2 separate regions of the Homo sapiens genome follow, and region 1 is linked to region 2. The links come from fine-mapping of genetic effects on gene expression. Tissue or cell type: tibial artery. Region 2 holds a variant in brackets; the other region holds the start of a gene. All regions are shown on one strand. Distances are between the middles of the regions.

What was found. PIP is the estimated chance that this variant, and not a neighbour inherited with it, causes the effect.
Region 1: it holds the start of FSCN2, and the variant in region 2 is the best candidate, but not a certain one, in a credible set for the expression of FSCN2 in tibial artery (GTEx, PIP 0.68).

Annotation. Positions count from the first base shown.
Region 1 is chr17:81,526,714-81,532,958 of GRCh38, reverse strand. It overlaps FSCN2 (fascin actin-bundling protein 2, retinal), which reads right to left and starts at 4,582. Exons shown (of 5, transcript NM_012418.4): 1 at 3,602-4,582. The coding sequence starts at 4,427. RefSeq lists enhancers at 3,608-4,133, 4,134-4,660.
Region 2 is chr17:81,495,915-81,506,763 of GRCh38, reverse strand. No RefSeq gene overlaps it. Among named protein-coding and RNA genes, the nearest start is that of ACTG1, 11 kb to the left of the region's middle. RefSeq lists an enhancer at 6,148-6,871. The variant A/G (reference allele first, on the strand shown) is at 5,104.

The DNA.
Region 1 (6,245 bases), 28 kb before region 2:
TGTTGAAGGCAGGGAGGCGAGTGGCTGCTGCTTCCTGCTTCTAAAGTGGGAGATGGGAGCTGGTCTTGAGTAGGGGATTCTCCCCTCAAAGGGATGATAGGGTCAGATGCAGGGTGGTTGAGGATCAAGAGACTGAAAAATGGTCCATACAGTCCCCATCCCTCCACCACTCTGTCAGCACCCCTCCATCACCACCATCACCATCATCACTGTCATCATCACCATCACCATCACTATCACCACCACCATCACTATCACTATCGCCATCACCATCACTATCATCACCATTGCCTCCATCATCACCATCACCACCATCATCACCATCACCATCATCACCATTATCATCACCATCACCATCATCACCATCACCATCACTATCATCACCACCATCACCATCACCACCATCACCATCACCACCATCACTATCATCATCATCACCATCGTCACCATTATCATCACCATCATCACCATCACTATCATCACCACCACCACCATCACCACCACCATCACCATCATCATCACCATTATCATCACCATCACCATCATCACCATCACTATCATCACCATCATCGCCATCACTATCATCACCATCACCATCACCACCATCACTATCATCATCATCACCATCACTATCATCACCATCATCGCCATCACTATCATCATCATCACCACCATCACCATCACCACCATCACTATCATCATCATCATCACCATCACCATCATCACCATTATCATCATCACCATCACTATCATCACCACCACCACCATCACCACCACCATCACCACCACCATCACCATCATCATCACCATCACCATCATCACCATCACTATCATCACCATCATCGCCATCACTATCATCACCATCATCACCATCACCATCACCACCATCACTATCATCACCATCACCATCATCACCATCATCATCACCATCACTATCATCACCACCACTACCATCACCACCACCATCACCATCATCATCACCATTATCATCACTATCACCATCACCATCATCATCACCATTATCATCACTATCACCATCACCATCATCACCATCACTATCACCATCATCGCCATCACCATCATCACCATCATCGCCATCACCACCATCACCATCACCACCATCACCACCACCACCATCACCACCACCATCATCACCATTATCATCATCACCATCATCACCATCACTATCATCACCATCATCGCCATCACTATCATCACCATCATCACCATCACCATCACCACCATCACTATCATCATCACCATCACCATCATCACCATCATCATCACCATCATCATCACCATCACTATCATCACCACCACCACCATCACCACCACCATCACCATCATCACCATTATCATCACTATCACCATCACCATCATCACCATCACTATCATCACCATCATCGCCATCACCATCATCACCACCATCGCCATCACCACCATCACCATCACCACCATCACCATCACCATCATCACCATCACCACCACCACCATCATCACCATCACCACCACCATCACCACCATCTCCATCATCACTATCACCACCACCATCACCATCACCATCATCACCATCACCACCATCACCACCACCATCATCACCATCACCATCATCACCACCACCATCACCACCACCACCATCATCACCACCACCACCATCACCATCACCACCATCACCATCACCACCGCCATCACCACCATCATCACCATCACCATCATCACCACCATCACCATTATCACCATCACCACCATCACCACCATCACCACCATCACCACCATCATCACCATCACCACCATCATCACCATCACCATCATTGTCGCTGCTGCCACCACACTGTCACCACCGTCCTCACCTCCACTTCCACGCCACCATGCACATCACACCACAATGCCACGGCCACGGCCATGACTGCCACTTTGAGTCTGCTTTCCAAGCTGTCCATATACAAATGCCTAAAGGTCTAGTGTCTTTGGCTTCCATGGAGGAAGCATTCTCACTGCCACTGTCCCACTTACCCCCTTTAACCACCTAAGGATTGCCACATGCCCGGCCTGGGCCCAGGCCAGCAGGCATTACAGCTGGACTGTGGGCTGTGATAGGAAGGAAGGGCCATGGCCGTGCATCCACAGTTGAATTCTCACTCCTGGGACCCTGTCACTGCTGGGACAGGCCCGAGGATGCCAACTGCAGGTGCAGGACCCCATAGCCATGGCTGGGCTCCCCTCTCCATGCACAGGGTGGGGCCTCTGCCATCTGGCCCCAGAGTGTCAGTGTACCCAGGGGGCCTGGACATCCGTCAGGGTGGGGGCTTGGTGGGCACCTGGGAGCTGCCAGGAGACAGGGGAGCTCTCCTTGCCCAGCTGATGCTGGTCTGGAAGGACCTGAGTTGGGAGGAGGAGCTCCATGCACCCGGCTCTCCCCACCTCGCCTTTTCAGACCACCTCCGAGCCACTCTGGGGTGCATGGAGCCAGGAGCCCAGGTGGGTAGTGACTGCCCGGGCCAGGGCTTTTCCCTCAGAGCTCAGCTTGTGGGGAAGGAGGAACTGCTGGGGTTCACCCCATAGGCGGTGGAGGGAGTCACACAGACAGGCAACTGGTGACCTGGGAACTGGGGAGAGCCAGGCCACGCCCCACTGGGGCAGGGAGGTGCCTCCCCACCAGGAGCCCAGGCCCCGGGTAAAGCTGCCTGCCCACCGTGTCCTCCATCACTGGAGCTGACCTTAAGCCCCCCCACTCCTGAGGACACGAGGCTCCACTGGTCAGGCACGTGGTGGTGCTATCCCCGCCCGATCCCCAGCTCCCTGCCCTACCCTGGGCTCCTCCCCAATTTCCTTTAAAGTCCAGAAAATGCAGCCGGGCACGGTGGCTCACGCCTGTAATCCCAGCACTTTGGGAGGCCGAGGTGGACAGATCACAAGGTCAGGAGATCAAGACCATCCTGGCTAACACAGTGAAACCCCGTCTCTTCTAAAAAATACAAAAAATTAGCCGGGCGTGGTGGCGGGCGCCTGTAGTCCCAGCTACTCGGGAGGCTGAGGCAGGAGAATGGCGTGAACCCGTGAGGCGGCGCTTGCAGTGAGCCGAGATCACGCCACTGCGCTCCAGCCTGGGTGACAGAGCGAGACTCTGTCTCAAAAAATAAATAAATAAATGAAGTCCAGAAAATGGGGTGGAGAAAAAGAAGGGGAGATATGGACCCCCCACAGCCTCCTGCCCACATGCCCCTCATGGCACCAGGCCAGGCTGTGGGCCTCCTGCCCCTGCTGGGCACTGCCCATCGCCTGGCCCACACCTCTCCAGTCTCAGACTCCGCAGCTGCCCAGGGCTTGGCTGAGACATTCTCCAGCTATGCTGAGAAAGGCCAGGAACCCTTGCCTCTGACCCTGAAGCCACCACCCCTCAGTGGGGGTCGCCTGGGCATGGCCCGAGGCCCACCCACCTACACCCTGAGTGGCCACACATGTCCCACATGGACCCCCAGCCCAGAACAGACATGTGAACGCACAGACACGATACCACTCCCCGTGAGACCCCCACGGCCTCCTCCCTGAAGCAGGGGGGTCCCAGCACCCCTCAGGAGGTCGCCACCTGTGCCCTCCCTACCTTGCCGCACAGAGACGTAGCGGTGGTTGGCAGCCACCAGCACCACCTGTGGGTGACTCTCCTCCAGATCAAAGAGCTCATCCTTGCCAGGTCGCGTGTTTCGGCCGGCCTTGAGGGTGCCTGCGGGCCCCACGGGTGCCAGGTAGTGGCCGTCGCAGTCCTTGAAGGCCAGCTTGCCCGCCTTGAACTCCAGCGTGTAGCAGGCACGGGGCTCAGGCTCCCAGACCAGACGGCCGTCGCTGCGCAGGTAGCGGCTGTCACAGGACTTGAGGCAGTACCGTCGGCTCCGGAAGATGAGGGTGAGGAGGGCGTCCACGCCCCAGGGCTTGTCTCCGTCTGCGGCCATCTCGTCCTCCCGCGGGCACAGGTGCACGTAGCGCCGCCGGCTCACGCTCAGCAGGTGGGCCTGCGGGTGGATGGCCAGGTGCACGGTCCACAGCTCGGCCGGGGAAACGGCTGTGGCGAAGCAGGACAGCTGGTCCTCGGTGCCTCCGAAGAAGCGGCCGTGCGGCTCGGACCGCAGCACCCAGCGCCCATCTGGCTGCGGCAGGACCAGGAAGCGGCAGTCACGGCCCGGCTGCTCTGCCTCACAGGCCACGCGCCCGTCCTCTTCTGCCGACAGGTAGCGGCCCAGGTGGCTGCTGCGGAGCAGCACAGCCGTGCCTTGTCCTGGGTCGGGTTCCAGCACCCAGGTCTGCTTCCTCTTGAGGCTGGGTGCCGAGGCATTGACCTTGAAGCCGAAGCTCTCAGCTGTCAGGTAGCGGTCAGTGTCGTTGACGAGGCCAAACTGGATCTTCAGCACCTGGTGCAGGCCGTTCGTCGGCATCTTCAGGCTGGCCGGGTCCCCGGAGGGGCCTGGGATGCGCCCTCTGAGTGCTCACGGCCCCCGCGGTCCCCCAGAAGCCCGGGTCGGCTCGGCTGGCCCACAGCCCCCAGACCCAGCCGGCGTCACGAACCCCCTGCCTGCTCTGACCCGCCTCTGACCCGCGGCAGCAGCCTGGGCAGCTCTTAGAGGGCCCGCGGGCAGCAGAGGGCGGGCGGGGAGGGCGGATCAGAGACGTGCGGCTTAGGAGCAGCACCTTTCATTACCCTCAGCTTGGATTTCAGCCACTCCCGGATTGCACAGAGCCCAGAGCCCGAGGGCCTGAGGGCCTACGGGGCTGGAGGGCAGGGTTGATCCCCTTTTCCTCATAGCGTGGGCCCAGCGCCCCTCTTCACGGCCCTGCACCTTTTGGCCTCTCTCGTTCCTGCCCCCCTCCTCCAACCCCGTGTGGGCTCCCGGCCCGGCCCGGCCCAGCCCTTCCGGATGTAGAAGCCGTCCAGTGGAACGCTCACGGCTCGGCCGCAACCTGATCGCCGCCCGTACCCTCGGTGGCCGCCAGGCCCTCAGCTGGATCCAGTTACTGCTTCTCTGATTCCTGCTGCCAGAAGCATAGCAAGGACCCCAGCCACAACCTGCAGCCCAGGTCGCCTCCACCCCAGACCGGCCTCTGGCCACACTGCTCAGGCCCCAGAATGACGCACTGGACTGCCACCCACGCTGGAGGGTGGAACACAGTGGCCGTGCAGCCCTGCAGGCAGGGGGCAGAGTCAGAGGCCCTGGGCCAGGCTGGCCCGGCCCCAGCGCACTCCTGTGCGCTCTGAGCAAGTTGCTGGGCCCTGAGGCTGCCCCCTCCTCTGCTGTGAGCTGGAGTGAAGCCAGCCTCACTTCACTTTGGAGTCTTTACGGATGTGGATCCAGGAGGCTGGTGGGACGATGTCCACCCCATGCTCCCAGCGGTGGCCCTTGGAATCTGGGAGAGGATGAAGGCCAGCAGGCCGGGAGAGACTGGAAGTGGTCACACCTGTCTACAGCACCTCCTTGCTCTGGGCCACCTGGCTGTACCCCTTCCCCAGAGCCTGAGGGGCACTGGGCCCTGCTCACCGTGCCTGGCTCCTGCACCTGCCTCAGGGGCTTGGGGCCAAGTAGTGAAACCAGAGCTGGCCACCCTGGGCCAGGGCCAGCCCGGTGTCCTCTTCCTCATAACAGCGTGTGACCCTCCCGTCTCCCTGGGGACTGGGAACAGGGGCCACAGGCCCCTTCCGGTCATGGCCTGGAGTCACTCCCCTGTCCTCCTGGGCCCATCTCCTGAGTGGCCATCATGGGGGTCCCCGTAGGGCAGGAGTCTAGCCAAAAGCAAGGGGCCTGGGCTGGGCACCTGTGGGCTCCAGAGGTGGGCAGGGCCATGGTGGCAGAGTGTGCACAGACTCAGGGGCTCTTCCTCTGTCCTCTAAGCCCTGGACAGCAACCGTGCCAGGCACCTGCAGACACAGGGGAGGAAAAAGAGGAGACCTGTCCCCACTGTCCCCACGCTCAGGGGCCAGGGTGGGGGCAGAGAGACTCCCACATGCAAATACCCCCCAGGGCACAGCGTACGCCACGACGCCAGGGCCTGCTCTCGCCTCTCCCTGTGTGCTGGCCTCATCCGCCTCTATGATTCACACGCATTTATGAGGCACCAACTGTGTGCGAAACCAGGTCACGTGCCAGGCACCATCCTGGGGAGACGCAGTCTGGGGTTTCACCCCCTTCCCAGAGACGATGCCCACACACACTCTCCCACAGTTTCCAGGGGACTGAGGACACAGGCCTAGCACCGATGCC
Region 2 (10,849 bases):
GGGATCACAGGTGTGAGCCACTGCGCCTGGCCTGTACACTTTTAAACGATTAAAATGGTAACTTTTATGTTCCATATTTCTTTTTCTTTTTCTTTCTTTTTTTTTTCTTTTTTGAGATGGAGTGTCGCTCTTGTTGCCCAATTGGAGTGCAATGGCGCAATCTCAGCTCACCACAACCTCCACCTCCTGGGTTCAAGCGATTCTCCTGCCTCAGCCTCCCAAGTAGCTGGGATTACAGGCATGCGCCACCGCGCCCAGCTAATTTTGTATTTTCGGTAGAGATGGGGTTTCTCCATGTTGGTCAGTCTGGTCTCAAACTCCTGACCTCAGGTGATCCGTCCACCTCGGCCTCCCAAAGTGCTGGGATTACAGGCATGAGCCACCGCGCCCGGCTGCAACAGCAATATATTGACTCAGAGGAGGACAGGTGCTGCTGAAAGGGGCTGAGAGAATCTGATCCTGGCTCAGCACAGCTGGGGATTGGCCTCCTCCATGGCCTTTTGTTTGTTTGCTTTTGTGTTTTTTTTGGAGACAGCATCTCACTATGTTGCCCAGGCTGAACTCCTGGACTCAATGGTCCTCCTGCTTAGGCCTCCCAAAGTGCTGGGATTACAGGCATGAGCCACTGCACCCAGCCTAGGACTCTTTTTGAAAAAACAACCACAAGCTGGGCGCGGTGGCTCATTCCTGTAATCCCACCACTTTGGGAAGCCGAGACGGGCGGATCACGAGGTCAGGAGTTCAAGACCAGCCTGGCCAACATGGTGAAACCCATCTCTACTAAAAATACAAAAATTAGCCAGGCATGGTGGCGTGCGCCTGTAATCCCAGCTATTCCAGAGGCTGAGGCAGGAGAATTGCTTGAACCCACATGGCAGAGGTTGCAGTGAGCCGAGATTGAGCCACTGCACTCCAGCCTGGGTGACAGAGCAAGACTCTATCTCAAAAAAAAAAAAAAAAAAAAAAAAATCACAGTATCATGCCCCCACCCACCAATTATTGATCGATACTTAGTATCATCTAATGTCCAAATTTCCTTGGTTGTCTTAAATTTTTTGTTGTTGTTTTGTTTGTCTGTTTTTTTGGGGGGACAGGGTCTTGCTTTGTTGCCCAGGCTAGAGTGCAGTGGCACAATCACAGCTCACTGCAGCCTCGACTTCCTAGGCTCAAGCAATCCTCCCACCTCAGCCGCTTGAGTAGCTGGGACTACAGGCGTGCACCACCATGCCCAGATAATTTTTAAACTTTCTGTAGAGATGGGGTCTCCCTATGTTGCTTAGGCTGGTCTCAAGCTCCTGGTCTCAAGAGATCCTCTCACCTCAGCCTCCTAAAATGTGGCGATTACAGGTGTGAGCCACCATGCCCAGCCTTAAATTTCTTTCTTTTTTTTTTTTGAGACGGAGTCTCACTCTGTCACCCGGGCTGGAGTGCAGTGGTGTGATCTCGGCTCGCTGCAAGCTCCGCCTCCTGGGTTCATGCCATTCTCCTGCCTCAGCCTCCCGAGTAGCTGGGACTACAGGCGCCCACCACCACGCCCGGCTGGTGTATTTTTAGTAGAGACGGGGTATTTTTTTTGTATTTTTTTGTATTTTTTTTGTATTTTTAGTAGAGACGGGGTTTCACCGTGTTGGCCAGGATGGTCTCGATCTCCTGACCTCGTGATCCACCCGCCTCGGCCCCCCAAAGTGCTGGGATTACAGGCGTGAGCCACCGCGACCCACCTAAATTTCTTTTAACGGTTGGTTTCCAATCATTGCACTTGGCCACTATGTCTCTTAAATCTCTTTTAACCGCGGGATTTACCCTCTTTCATTTTTCTCCTTTCAGGTTATTTGTGGAAGAAGGCAGGTCTTTTGTTCCAAAGGGTTCCACCTGTCTGGATTTTGCTGATTTCGTCCTTGTGGTTGATGTGGCACGTTCCTCAACCCTTATATTTCCTATAGTCAGTTAGCTCTAGGTGTAAATGTCCAAACTGGTCTGTTTAATCTCATTCAGGTTGATTTTTTTAGCAAGAAGATGACCACAGGGTGGGTGCAACTTCATGGAGAGGGAAAGAGTCCCACAGAGCCTGATGTTGTGATATTAGCAGCCATTGGAAATCCCTGCCAGGACCTGCTATTTCATTAGTGGTTACAAATTATTCTCCCCCTCCACTCCCCTCCCCTCCCTCTTTTCTCCTCTCCTCCTCTCCCTCCCTCCCTCCTTCTCTCCTTCCCTCCTTCCCTCCCTCCCTTTCTTTTTTGATGGAGTCTCACTCTCTCGCCGCTGGAGTGCGGCCTCCGCCTCCAGTTTCCAGCAATTCTCCTGCCTCAGCCTCCTGAGTAGCTGGGACTATAGGCGCCCACCACCACGCCTGGCTAATTTTTTTTTTGTATTTTTAGTAGAGATGGGATTTCACCGTGTTAGCCAGGATGGTCTTGATCTCCTGACCTCGTGATCTGCCTGTCTCGGCCTCCCAGAGTGCTGGGATTACAGGCGTGAGCCACTGCGCCTGGCCTATTTCTTTCTTTTTTTTAATGGAGTTTTGCTCTTGTTGCCCAGACTGGAGTCCGGTGGTGTGATCTCGGCTCACTGTAACCTCCACCTTCTGGGTTCAAGCGATTCTCCTGCCTCAGCTTCCCAAGTAGCTGGGATTATAGGTGCCCACCACCATGCCCCACTAATTTTTGTATTTTCTGTAGAGCCAGGGTTTCACCATGTTGGTTGGCCAGGCTGGTCTTGAACTTCTGACCTCAGGTGATCTGCCCACCTTGGCCTTCCAAAGTGCTGGGATTACAGGCATGAGGCACTGCACCTGGCCTTTTCTTTTCTTTTCTTCTTTTCTTTCCCTTTCTCCCTCCCTTTCTTCTCCCTTCCTTCCTTCCTTCCCTTCTTTCTTTCCCTCCCTCCCTCCCTTCTTTCTTTTTCTTTTTTCTTTCTTTCCTTTTTTCTCTCTTTCTTTTCTTTCTCCTCTTTCTTTCTTGCTTGCTTTCTTTCTTGCTTGCTTTCCTTCTTCCTTTCCTCTTTCCTTTCTTTCTTTCTTTTCTTCTTTCCAGGGTCTTGCTCTGTCACCCTGGCTGGAGTGCAGTGGCAATAGAGGCTCACTGTAGCCTTGACCTCAGGGGCTCAAGCAATCCTCCCACCTCAGTCTCCCTAGTAGCTAGGACCAGCACGCCTGGTTAATGGTTTTCTAATTCTATCCTTCCTTTTTTTTCTTTTTGAGATGGAGTCTCGCTCTGTCGCCCAGGCTGGGGTGCAGGGGCGCGATCTCGGCTCACTACAAGTTCCGCCTCCTGGGTTCACACCATTCTCCTGCCTCAGCCTCCCGAGTAGCTGGGACCACAGGCGCCCGCCACCACGCCTGGCTAATTTTTTGTATTTTTACTAGAGACGGGGTTTCACAGTGTTAGCCAGGATGGTCTCGATCTCCTGACCTCGTGATCCGCCCGCCTCGGCCTCCCAAAGTGCTGGGATTACAGGTGTAAGCCACCGCGCCCAGCCTGTTTTCAATATCTTAAATGCCATTCAGCTTAGTTAACAGAAACTTCTGGAAGGGATGCCTGCTCTGAGAAGTGTCACACGTGCTGGGGGACTTCAGGGCACTCCTGAAAGGGCTCCCCTTCCCCAGGATCCCTGGGTCCTGATGGTAGGCAGAGGTGGAGGATGTTCTCCAAGCCGAGCCTTCCTGCAGCTTTCAGAGCCTGTCCACACCACCGGCATCCCTCTACCCAGACCAATTTTCCCCGGCAGGAGATGGACATTGTGTTTATTGGATGCAATTTCAAACCCCTTTCATGTTTTCATAGAGGATGGAGACCAAGGGGGAAGTTCAGTGGTTCACGTTGGCAAATCCTGGCTCCGATGACTGAGAGATTTTCTGACTTACAGGACCCTTGCTTGGTTGGAGGTGGGTCCTAAACATCAGAGCCAGAGACAGCTGTGGGCAGGTGTTTTCCTCTGTGCAGCACGTGGGCCAAGTGCTGGGGCTGCCTGCTGTACACAGAGCACCTCGTGGCCTCCCATGGCTCCCTTCAGCTATGCTTGGCCTGCCCGCCTGCTGGTGGTCGTTTGGAATCCTTTCCTGCTGGAAAGGATGTGTCCCCGTGCTGTCCAGCTCCCTGCTGGCGGCCCTTCTCAGGGTGCCCTCCAGAGAGGACTGCCGTGGTGCATACTTCACACATGATGCAGCATCATGGTCTATGTGAATGGCATCCCCTGCAGTTGTGCAGTGCACCACCTGTGCAGCCGTCCACAGCATCCCCACACAGCCCAGTCCTCTCCCGGGAAGCACGCCTTCCTCCACTTCCACCCTCTGTTACTCGTCCATCTCCCTCCCCGATATGCAGGATTAAAAAAAAATTTCTTTCTTTTTTTTTTTTTTTTTTTTTTGAGACAGAGTTTTTGCTCTGTTGCCCAGGCTGGAATGCAATAGTGCAGTCTCAGCTCACTGCAACCTCTGCCTCCTGGGTTCAAGCGATTCTCCTGCCTCAGCCTCCCAAGTGGCTGGGATTACAGGCATCCACCACCACACCCAGATAATTTTTATATTTTTAGTAGAGATGGGGTTTCACCATGTTGGCCAGGCTGGTCTTGAACTCGTGACCTCAGTTGATCCACCCTCCTTGGCCTCCCAAAGTGCTAGGATTACAGGTGTGAGCCACCACGCCCAGCCCCCCAAAAAATTTGTTTTAGATTATGGTAAAACATGCATAACACAAAATTGATCATTTTAATGGTGTTGAAGTGTACAGTCATTACGTCACAAAGCTGTGCCTCTATTACCACATGTTCAGAATTCTTTCATCTTCCCAAACTGAAACTCTACAACTATTTTCTTTTATTTTTTTGAGACGGAGTCTTGCTCTGTCACTAGGCTGCAGTGCAGTGGCACGATCTCGGCTCACTGCAACCTCCGCCTCCCGGGTTCAAGGGATTCTCCTGCCTCAGCCTCCCAAGTAGCTGGGACTACAGGCATGCACCAACACATCTGGCTACTTTTTGTATTTTTAGTAGAGACAGGGTTTCACCATGTTGGCCAGGCTGGTCTCAAACTCCTGACCTCAGGCAATCCTCCCACCTCGGCCTCCCAAAGTACTGGAATTACAGGCGTGAGCCACCATGCCG[A/G]CTGAAACTCTATATCTATTAAACAACAATTTTCTTCCTTTTTTTTTTTTTTCTTTTTTTGGACAGGGTCTTGCAGTGTAACATAAGCCATAGTGAACTGGCATAATCACAGTTGACCACAGCCTCAACCTCCCTGACTCCAGCAATCTGCCCATCTCAGCCTCTGGAGTAGCTGGGACCACAGGCGTGTGCCACCACGCCTGGCTAATTTAATTTATTTACTTTTATTTATTTATTTTTTAGAGACAGGGTCTCACTTTGTTGCCCATGCTGAAGTGCAGTGGTGCAAGCTCAGTCACTGGCTGGGCTCAGGTGATCTTCCCACCTCGGCCTCCTGAGTAGCTGGGAATACAGGTGCATGCCACCAAGCCCGGCTAATTTTTTGGTATTTTTAGGAAAGACGAGGTTTCACCGTATCACTCAGGCTGGTCTCGAGCTCCTGAACTCAAGCAATCTGCCTGCCTTGGACTCCCAAAGTGCTGAGACTACAGGCATGAGCCACTGCGCCCGGCCAATTTTATTTATTTATTTATTTTATAGAGATGGGGTCTTGCCATGTTGCCCAGGCTGGTCTCCAACTCTTGGGCTCAACCAGTCCTTCTGCCTCTGCCTTCCAAAGTGTTGGTGTTGGGATTACAGATGTGAGCCACCACACCTTCCTTCCTTTTTTTTTTTTTTGAGACAGATTCTCCATCATCCAGGCTGGAGTGCAGTGGCGTGATCTCAGGCTCACTGCAACCTCTGTCTCTCTTTTTTTTTTTTTTTTTTTTTTTTTTGAGATGGAGTGTCACTCTGTTGCCAAGGCTGGAGTGCAGTGGCACGATCTCGGCTCACTGCTACCTCCGCCTCCCGGATTCAAGTGATTCTCCTGCCTCAGCCTCCTGAGTAGCTGGGACTACAGGTGCCCACCACCACATCTGGATAATTTTTGTATTTTTAGAAGAGCCGGGGTTTCACCATGTTGGCCAGGCTGGTCTCCAACTCCTGACCTCAAGTGATCCACCTGCCTCACCCTCTGGGTTGGGATTACAGGCGTGAGCCACCGTGCCTGGCCCTTCCTTTTTAAAGCTGAGAAATACTGCAGTATATGTCTATACTACATTCTGCTTGTGAAGTATGTGTTCCAGGGCCTGCCTGCAGTTCTCTGGGGTCTGTGGCCGGCGTGGACTGCTGGTCATAGGGTCATTCTGTGCACCTTTCTGAGGAACCAACAGTTCTCCACAGCAGCTGCCTCATCTTGCATTCCCATCGGCAGTGGACAAGAGTTCCAGTTGCTTCACATCCTCAGTGGCACTTGTTTTCTATATTTTGGATAATTGCCACCCTGGCGGGTGTGCTGCAAGCCCCTGAGGACAGGCTGACCTGCTCACCGGGCCACCCACCCCTCATCCGGGACCTACCAGGCTCAGATGGAGCCTCCCAGGAAATAGCTGAGATTCCTCTGAACGAACAAACAGACTCCATGCAGCCTTTCAGGCTCTTAAGACCCAGCTGCCCAGGGACACACTTAGCTTGGAGTTTAGGGAGCAGAACAGAACAGGAAGGGACAGGAGGCCTGTCTGCCCCCTGGCAGGACGGGTGGTCCAGAGGAGCCCGGGACCTTCAGGCATGGAGGCCTACCTAGGATAAACGGATACCTGGGCTCAACCCACTTGGAGAACTTCAGCCTAGAGGGTCCCCGGCTCCAGAACCTGCAGCCAGGGTGGCAGGGCTGTTGGCAGCCTGGCTTCCCTACCAGTGCCCGAGGGGCTCTGCTCCTCCCACGGCGGTTCCCCAGACAGATGCTCAGAAGAAAGCCAATGCATGCCCCAGCTGTGGCTCAGCAGTGGGGTCTCCACCTCCGAGGCCCAACAGAGGCCCTCCCTGTCCTCTCGCCATGGCCCCCTGCTGCTCCTCACTGCCTAGGGTGGCCTGGACCTGGTCGCCCAGGCAAGCGTCCAGCTTCTCTCCTGGGGCGGAGGGTCGGGGGACTGAGGGGTGATGTCTGTCCGAGCTGGGCTCCCACACTGGGGCTCATCCCGTGGGACCCCCACTTTGCATGGCCGAGGGCTGGAGGGGCTACGAGGCCCGCGGGATCAGAGTCGGCCTGGGTCCCAGCCAAGGCCCATTTCCCGACTCTCCTGGCCCGGGTCGGCACCCGGATTTGTGGCGTCCCCTCCCCTCGTGGCTGCAGGACCGCAGGGCTGCCTGGGGAGGCCTGGCCAGGCCCTGCCCTCTCTGGGCTGCTCCCTCCCCAGATCCTGGACACGTCCAGCTCAGCTCCGTGGCGCTAATAAGCCCCTAGCCGGGGTGCGGCAGGCGGGGGTCACAGAGAAGCTGCGGGGCTGGGCGTGGGCAGAGCGCGGCGCGGGCGCGAAGCAAGAGGAGCCGCAGATGGCCGGGGCGCGGGGCCGTAGAGCGGGGAGCAGGGCCGGGGCGCTGTCCCGGGCGAGGCGGGGCCGGCAGCGAGGACGTTGGCGCCACGCCCGCGCGTGCCCGTGCCTTGGTTTCCCCAGAGCGAGGCCGACGTCAGGCTGCGAGCTGGTCGCAGGGGAAAGCCCCGATCTCAACCCCCTCTGTCGCTGCGGCACCGCCTGGTCCATCGGCTGACCGCCTCCGCCCTGGAAGGCGCACGGGCTCTGACCCCCGAGGGCTCCAGCCCCCTGCCCTGGGCTCCCATCCGTGGCCCGTGAGGCCCACGCCTCCCGTGCCCAGAGGTGGGCCCTGACCCCGCCACCCCGGCAGGATGCGTGAGGCTGGTGAGGAAGCTCCAGGGACGCCTCAGCGGTGCCAGGGGCCTCAGAACTGCGGGCCACTGGCTGTGACTGTGGCACCTGGGCCGGCCCTGGTCAGAGGCTCATCCTCCGGGAGGCTGGAGCAGGCCGAGCCGCGAGGAAGATTCTGCTTGTATGCAACAGGCATAGCTTCCTTTCCTTCTTTGAAGTTGTTTCAAATTTTGAGACAGGATCTTGCTCTGTCGCCCAGCCTGGAGTGCAGTGGCAAGATCACAGCTCACTGCAGCCTCAACCTCCCAAGCTCAAGTGATCCTCCCACCTCAGCCTCCTGAATAGCTGGAACTACAGGCACATGCCACCATACCCGGTTCTTTTTTTTTTTTTTTTTTTTTGACGGAATCTCGCTCTGTCGCCCAGGCTGGGGTGCAGTGGCATGATCTCGGCTAACCGCAACCTCCACCTCTCGGGTTCAAGCGATTCTCCTGCCTCAGCCTCCCAAGTAGCTGGGATTACAGGCACACACCACCACGCCCGGCTAATTTTGTACTTTTAGTAGAGACAGTGTTTCACTATGTTGGCCAGGCTGGTCTCGAACTCCTGACCTCAGCTGATCTGCCCACTTCCGCCTCCCAAAGTGCTGGGACTGCAGGAGTGAGCCCCCGCTCCCAGCCATCCACTTTTGAGCATACAGTTGGGCACTGAGCATCTGCACTGTTGTTCAGCCAAAATCTCCAGAACTTTCATCTTGCAAAACCAAAAAGCTGTACCCATCAAACAACTCCTTCTCCTCCACCCAGCCCCCGGCAGCCACCATTTCACTTTCTGTCTGTATGAATTTAGCTGCTCTAGGTCCCTCCTACATGTGGAACTGTACAGGATTTGTCTTTTGTGACTGGCCTATTTCACTTAACGCACAGTCCTCAAGGCGGACCTGTGGTGCAGAGTGTGTTGGAATTTGAATTTCCGTGCTCTTTTTTTTTTTTTTTTTTGAGATGGAGTTTCACTTGTCAGCCAGGCTGGAGTGCAAGTGGCATGATCTCGGCTCACTGCAACCTCCGCCTCCTGGGTTCAAGCAATTCTCCTGCCTCAACCTCCCAAGTAGCTGGGACTACAGGTGTGCACCATCACGCCCGGCTACTTTTTGTGTTTTTTAAAATTAGAGATTGGGTTTCACCATATTGGCCAGGCTGGTCTCAAACTCTTGACCTCAAGCGATCCACCCGCCTCGGCCTCCCAAAGTGCTGGGAATACAGATGTGAGCCACTGTGCCCAGCCCAAGTTTTAAATTTTAATAATATCAATTCAGTTTTTTCTTTAATAGATAATGATTTTGGTGCTGTATGTAAAAACTCACGACCTGGTCAGGTGCAGTGGCTCATGCCTGTAATCCCAGCACTTTGGGAGGCCGAGATGGGTAGATCACTTGAGGTCAGGAGTTCAAGACCAGCCTGGCCAACACGGTGAAACCCCGTCTCCACTAAAAATACAAAAATTAGCCGAGTATGGTGATGAGCGCCTGTGATACTAGCTACTTGGGAGGCTGAGGCAGGAGAATTGCTTGAACCCAGGAGGCGGTGGTTTCAGTGAGCTGAGATCATGCCATTGCACTCCAGCCTGGGACACAGATTGAGACTCCATCTCAAAAAAAAAACAAAAACAAAAAACAAACAAAAAAACTCATGACCTAATTTAAGGTCATGTAGATTTTCTCCTATGTTTTGTTCTAGAACTTTTATAATTTTGCATTTTACATTTATGTCCATGGTTCATTTTTTTTTCTTTTCTTTTTTTTGAGATGGAGTCTCACTCTGTTGCCCAGGCTGGAGTGCAGTGTCACGATCTTGGCTCACTGACATAGCTGCCTCCCAGCTTCAAGCGATTCTCCTGCCTCAGCCTCCTGAGTATCTGGGATTACAGGCATGTGGCACCACAACTGGCTAATTTTTATTGTATTTTTAGCAGAAATGGGGTTTCACCATTTTGGCCAGGCTGGTCTCCAACTCTTGATCTCAAGTGATTTGCCCACCTTGGCCTTCCAAAGTGCTGGGATTACAGGCATGAGCCACTATGCCCGGCCTCCATTTTTTTTTTTCTTTTTGAGATAGGGTCTCACTCTGTCACCCAGTCTGTAGTGCAGTGGCATGATCATAGCTTACTGCAGCCTTGACCTCCTGGGCTCAAGCCTCCCCATGTAGCTGGGGCTAAAGGTGTGAGCCACCATGCTCGGTGAATTTTTAATTTTTTTGTAGAGATGGGGTCTCACCATATTGCCCAGGCTGGCCTCGAACTCTTGGTCTCAAGCAGTCCTCCCACATCAGTCTTCCAAAGTGCTGGGATTACAGGCATAAACCATTGAGCCGGGCTGCAAGCATTCTTATTTATGGCATCATTATGAACTTGTCTGGGAATGTCCACATTTTCAAAGCTCTCAGCCAACCATCTTTAGGTTTCTCCCAGGTATTTTCATTTTAAGGCTTTTCCTAATTTTCAAGGGGAAGTTTTTTTAAATAGGAGGAATTTTCCAAACATTCCTGCCAAGTAATTTCAAATGAGGCAGGTTTGCACAACTGGCTTGTTGCTTTCAATAAATAATACCTTGTAAGACTTTGCCAAGACAACTACAGGTATATCCTAATCTTTCCATTTGCCATTAGAACTTAAGTTTTTTCCCCGGGTTATTAAATATTCATTGTAGGATGGCTGGACTGAGATTCACTTACTCTCCTCATTGGACAAGTCAGTTGCTGCCACATGATTGGGTTATAATCAACTCTGTCATGATGACATGAGTGTTAAAGGGTTCCCACCACTCCAGCCACTACCTTTTTTTTTTTTTTTTAAGAGATGGGGGTCTCAGTGTGTTGCCCAGGCTGGAGTGCAGTGGTGCAATCATAGCTCACTGCAGCTTTGGCCTCCAGGGTTGAAGCCATCCTCCCACCTCAGCCTCCCAAGTAGCTGGGACTGCAGGCATGATCCACACTGCCTGGCTAATTTTTACACTTTTTGTAGAAACGGGGTTTCACCCTGTTGCC